2 separate regions of the Homo sapiens genome follow, and region 2 is linked to region 1. A link means that fine-mapping ties the variant in region 1 to the expression of a gene that starts in the linked region. Tissue or cell type: adrenal gland. Region 1 holds a variant in brackets; the other region holds the start of a gene. All regions are shown on one strand. Distances are from middle to middle.

Region 1 (2,750 bases):
CCAGGGGTCCTGCTGGACTCACCCGGGAAGAGGACCTCCGTTGGTCAGGTCGAAGACCTGATGAGGGTTCAGTAGCTTCCGGAAGCTGCAGAGCAGGTCTCGGCCCTTGAGGCCTCCACTCTTGGGGTTCACGAACACAAGGAGGGGACAGCTGTCTGGGGGCAGCTTCGCGTGCTGACAGACAGGGGGCTGGGTTAGGATGGGGACCCAAGGTGGGGTGTCCCCACTGCTGGGGTTGCCAGGCAGTGCCCAGCCCCCAACCCTGAGCCCACCTGGCTTGGACCAGCCCCCTCCCCAGGAAGGCGTGGCCAGCACCCTCACATCTGAGGCCTCACACATGAGCTGCGTGGTCACCCCATCTCGCTGCTGGCCAGCAGGGCGGCACTGAGGACAGCCGGCTGGCTGCCTGGCACTCCCAGCACAAAGGCCTCAGACCTGCCCACTGAGCTGCGTGTGAACAGACCACACCCGCCTGGGCCATGCAGCGCGAGTCCAGGCTGGAAATCCACGTGGGACTCTGCGTGGCACTCTGTGCCAGCGAGACCAAGGCCTGTCCCCTGGGGGGCCTCTGGTGCACACCTTTGGAGGATGGCGGCTCCCAGGCCACCGCCCACCTACACAGCAGCCGAGAAAAGCTCTTAACTCACAGGGTGGCACGCGGCGTCCCTCGACCACAGGACAGAGTCCATCTCCCCACACACAACCCCAAGAAACAGTACCCAGGGATCTAGACACAGCGGGCTCAGGGCTGGGATCCCTACGACAGGAGGCTAGGGACCCTACGACAGGAGGCTGGGGCCCCCACAGCGGGGAAGGCTGGGCAACAGGAGACACACAGGCTGGGTGCAGACACAGGGTGGGCAGCGGCACAGGGGCCGGCCGTGGCTGGGGGCAAGGACACACTCGGGGCTTCGTGACCCACTTGGCAGGCAGAGCCGCCTGCGGTCACCACTTACCACTCACCCCAGGGCAGGCAGCTGACGGGAGAGAGAAAGCGCGTGTCGGCCCCAAACCTGGCTCTGCCCACAGAGCGAGTGGAGCTGGGGTGGGGGCTGCATCCTCGGGACAGTGGGGATGGCCACCCTGTCCTGAGCCAGGCAAGGCCGGGTGTAGGGGCACAGGAGGGAGGCATAGCAGGGAGCCACAGGCATCTCCCGTCCCAGCCACAGACAACTCATTCTGCTC[G/C]AGTTCTGCTTCGCCTGGACTGGGGTCACGATCAAGGGTCAAGGTTCAGGGGTAGAACAGCCATGGACACCTGGGGGGTCCTCATGGGACCCTTTGGGGGCTAGATGGGCTGAGGACGAGAGGCCAATGTGAAGGCACGGTGTGCAGCGTGGAGTCCCAGGCTCCAGCCCCTCCATGGGCCAGAACCCCGTTCCCCCCGGCCCTGCCCTGTCTCCACGGACCAGACCCCCGTTCCCCCCGGCCCTGCCCTGTCTCCATGTTCCAGATCCCCCTTTCCCCCAGCCCTGCCCTGTTGCCAGGTGCCCCCTCTTCTGGGCACTGTGGGTCTGAAGGGCAGCGTTCAAAGTTTGGGAGCTGCACTGACTGGCCTGGGGAGCTCCAGGCAGAGAGCAGAGGCCCTAAGGCCTCCCGGGCAGGGGGAGTGAGGCTGAGGCTGTACCGGGAGGGCCATGCCTGGGATCCTGACAGCTGGTCACAAACACGCTCTGGCCCTTGGCGAGGCAGCCGCAGCGGGGCCCGGCACATCCAGGAGCTGCGTCCTGTGGGCCTCCCTACTGGGTGGAGGCCTCAGGTGCAGCGTGGAAGCTGGGCCTGACCCCACGGTGCCCCACGGAGCTGGTATCACCTACTGGGCAGCCTCGGATGAGCGCTGACCCTCTGACCTCAGGCCCCTTGCTGTAAAACGGGCAACAGAGTCCTTCCTGCTGTTGTGAGGCACAAACAAGGTGGCACCTACAAGCCCCCAGTGAATTCAAGGAAGTGATGCCAGATGAAAACAGCGAGTCTGGCTGTGGGGCCTGTGCACCTGCAGACCCCGACCTCCCTCTGGCCACCCCCTGGGGTGTGTGAAGAGCCGGCTTGACCGCACACTCACCAGCAGGTCGGGGAGCACCAGGGCAGTGAGCAGCCGGCCCCGCACAGCCATGTCCTTCAGCAGCATGTACAGCCGCTCGGCCTCCGCAAAGCAGGCAACGTCCAACACTACCGCGCCTGCGGCAGGAGCCCAGGACTCAGGGGGAGCCTGTCCCATGGCCCCCACGGTGCCAGGGCAGGAACCAAACCAGGACGTTTCCCCAGCCCAGGGCTGCCCAAGGGAAAGGTCAGGTGCTACGTGAGGGCCAGGGCTGTCCCACTTCACCCCAGGAACACCCCTGGGCCTCATGTGACCACGTCCCTCAGGGCAGCTCACCTTGGGAGGAGTAGATGTGACTCACGGACACCACGGTGGCTGCAAAGGCAGGCTGTGGTCAGGGCGGTGGGAGGCGAAGGACACACAGCACTGGGGCCAGGGACAGCCCCTCCGCCTGTCCAGGGGTGACATCTCACCCCAAAGGCAGCCTCCCCAGGAAGTACCCCTGCCCCACTCCAGGAGCAGGACTCCCAGCTCCCTGGAGGTACAGGACCCCCCAGAGGGAGAGGGAGAGGCAGAGGCTGAGCACCGCAGGGAACGGCCACAGAGGGCGAGAGGCTCCAGAGCCTCTTGGAGGAAGAGACGTGGGCTGGACCCGGAGCTCAGGCCTTGGTGGCTCAAGGAGAGGCAGGAGCCGGCTCAGCACTGCAGCCCC
Region 2 (2,612 bases), 29 kb after region 1:
GTCACAGTCACTGGACACAGGTGCAGGCAAGCCTGAGTCCAGCTGCTCCGTGTCCACCTCCCTGGCTCCCCAGGTTGGCAAACGGTCCTGCTGTCCACCCCATGCCCACACCAGAGCCCTCCCTCCCCCATCCAAACCATCGCCTGCTCTCCTGGAGACACCTCCACCCACCCCTCTGTCACCTGCCCTGTGGGTCCTGGGGCTGGCGGAAGTCTCAGGAAGAGGCCTCCTATGTCCCTGCCAAGCTTTGTGGGTACTGGGACCCCAAGTCTGCTGGGGGAGCAGCACTCAGACACTAGCCTAGCCCATCCGCCTGGACTTGGGACAGAATTCTGAGAATATGCCTGGACGGGGGCCCCATCAGGGCCAGCTGGGAGGGGAGGAGGGTGACTGGCGTCTGTCTCCCCTGCCCAGACAGTTCTGGGACGTGAGGCGCCCTTTTTCCCAGGCTGCACCAGCTCACTGTGGAACGGCCATGACACACTGTCCCGAGGCAGCACCGAGAGGGCCCAGCCCGCTGCACACAGTCACCCTGGGCCGGCAGAGCCGGAAGGGCACCTGACCTTTCCCTTGATCTCGGAAAACACCGTGGCGTTAGGGAGGCGGTGCTTAGAGGCCTGACTGGTCCCACGTGAGGCCTCGGGTCTGTCCTGTTTGCAGACTCCAATGTACTTTCACTTTAAACATTCTTCTCAGCGACGTTAGGCAAAGACTTTGCTCCCAGGACACCAGGTGCCCAGGACACCCTGGAGCCTGGGCTGAGCCTGCTGTTTGCACGCTGGCCCAGGGTGTGCGAGCTCCAGTCTCCTGGCGGGTGTGTTGGGGCAGTGAGCCCAGCCTGGTAGGTTGACACATGCAGGCTGGGCACAGCACCCCTGGGGCACAGAGCGGGGGTCCTGGCCCTCAGGCAACATTGCAAGAGTTGTGTCCCCTTCCCTGGAAGACCCCACCACACTGGGTCCCTGGATGCCCTGAAGCCCACCCCAAGCCCCTGGGGTCCAGGTGTGTGGAATGGGGACAGTAGGGCCACCTGCCTTGAGCCTGAGGGTGCCCCTAAGAAACCACGAGTCCAGGGCATTTCTGGCCTCGGCTCCCACGCCCCCCTCTGCTGCAGCTGAGATCTGGGCCCAGGATGGTTCTTACCTGAGGGAGTCCTCACAGGCGCGGAGGGCCCTGGGATGACGAGGGGCTGGCAAGACCACCGAGGACCGCAGGGCCCTCTGGCTCCCGCGAGCAGCGGGGAGAGTGGGGGTGGTGGCGCCAACCTGCAGGCAGTGGTCTGTGCCCTGGACTCTGTAGTTCAATTATTTACCTACAGATTGCTGAGTCATGGGTTTCTCCAGCCATGTTACCTGATCGGCTGATCCGGGAGTTGAACTGTAATCAGGGGCTTGTAGGAGTTAGAGCTGTGTGGGCCTCTGAGGAGCTCCCAGCCTCCCAGGAGCCGCTGCAGCTGTGGCTCTGCGGCCCTGCCGGGGGGGCTTAGGGACCAGCGGGAGGCGGGGGCTCAGGGGCTGAGCACAGGTAAACCTTCAGCTCTGGGGTCTGGGGTCGAGTGCAGCAGCCTTCAAACCCAGGCGGGGCTGAGGGAGGCTTGGTCTCCGTGTCCAGTCGCCGGACACCCTCCTGGTCCTGCAAGGAGCCAGCCTGGTCCAAGCTGGAGCAGGGCAGAGGCTGACAGCCGGCTCAGCCCAAGGCTGCCGGTGCGTGCATATGCGTGTGTGCTCGCGTAAGCCCTGTGTGTGGTGCTCACCGCCCAGGGCGAGGACTGCCGGGGTCAAGGTGCCGTGACTGGCCAGGAGTCCTGGTCTGACTGGACCCAGCACCGACCCACAGCGCCTGGTCACCCTCACGGCTCCTCTGCCCTCCCCTCTACCACAGACCAGGACCGGCAGTGCCTGCCTCATAGGGCTGGGGTGAAGATAAATGATTTTTTTAAGTGAACTAAATTAGGCCCACACGTGAAAATAAGGGTAAGCTGCTTTTTAAAAGGAATTATTAGCCAGGCACGATGGTTCACTCCTGTAATTCCAACACTTTGGGAGGCCTAGACAGGAGGATCGCTTAAGGCCAGCAGTTCAAGACCAGCCTGGTCAACATAGTGAGACGCCCCCCACCTTTTCTTTTTTTTTTTTTGAGGCGGAGTCTTGCTCTGTCACCCAGGCCGGAATGCAGTGGTGTGATCTCGGCTCACTGGAAGCTCTGCCTCCTGGGTTCACGCCATTCTCCTGCCTCAGCCTCCTGAGTAGCTGGGACTACAGGCGCCCGCCACCGCGCCCGGCTAATTTTTTTTTTTTTGAGACGGAGTTTCGCTCTGTTGCCCAGGCTGGAGTACAGTGGCATGATCTCGGCTCACTGCAAGCTCTGTCTCCCGGGTTCAAGTGATTCTCCTGCCTCAGCCTCCCGAGTAGCTGGGACTACAGGCACCCGCCACCACGCCCGGCTAATTTTTTGTATTTTTAGTAGAGACGGGGTTTCACCATGTTAGCCAGGATGGTCTTGATCTCCTGACCTCGTGATCCACCCACCTCGGCCTCCCAAAGTGCTGGGATTACAGGCTTGAGCCACTGCACCCGGCCGCCCCCTGCCCCCCAACCTTTAAAAAATTAAAA

Direction of the effects. Alleles are on the strand shown, and positions count from the first base shown. SD is a standard deviation of normalised expression in the study named.
With allele G in place of C in region 1, the expression in adrenal gland of the gene that starts at base 1,247 in region 2 is higher (moderate effect, 0.67 SD a copy in GTEx).

What was found. PIP is the estimated chance that this variant, and not a neighbour inherited with it, causes the effect.
Region 2: SLC26A1 starts here. The variant in region 1 is fine-mapped to the expression of SLC26A1 in adrenal gland (GTEx, PIP above 0.99).

Annotation. Positions count from the first base shown.
Region 1 is chr4:963,117-965,866 of GRCh38, forward strand. It overlaps DGKQ (diacylglycerol kinase theta), which reads right to left. Exons shown (of 23, transcript NM_001347.4): 14 at 2,375-2,413; 15 at 2,060-2,175; 16 at 23-174. Among named protein-coding and RNA genes, the nearest start is that of DGKQ, 9.1 kb to the right of the region's middle. RefSeq lists a silencer at 337-496. The variant G/C (reference allele first, on the strand shown) is at 1,186.
Region 2 is chr4:992,158-994,769 of GRCh38, forward strand. It overlaps SLC26A1 (solute carrier family 26 member 1), which reads right to left and starts at 1,247. Exons shown (of 3, transcript NM_022042.4): 1 at 1,144-1,247. The region is part of intron 2 of IDUA (alpha-L-iduronidase); the gene reads left to right. RefSeq lists enhancers at 584-1,395, 1,396-2,207.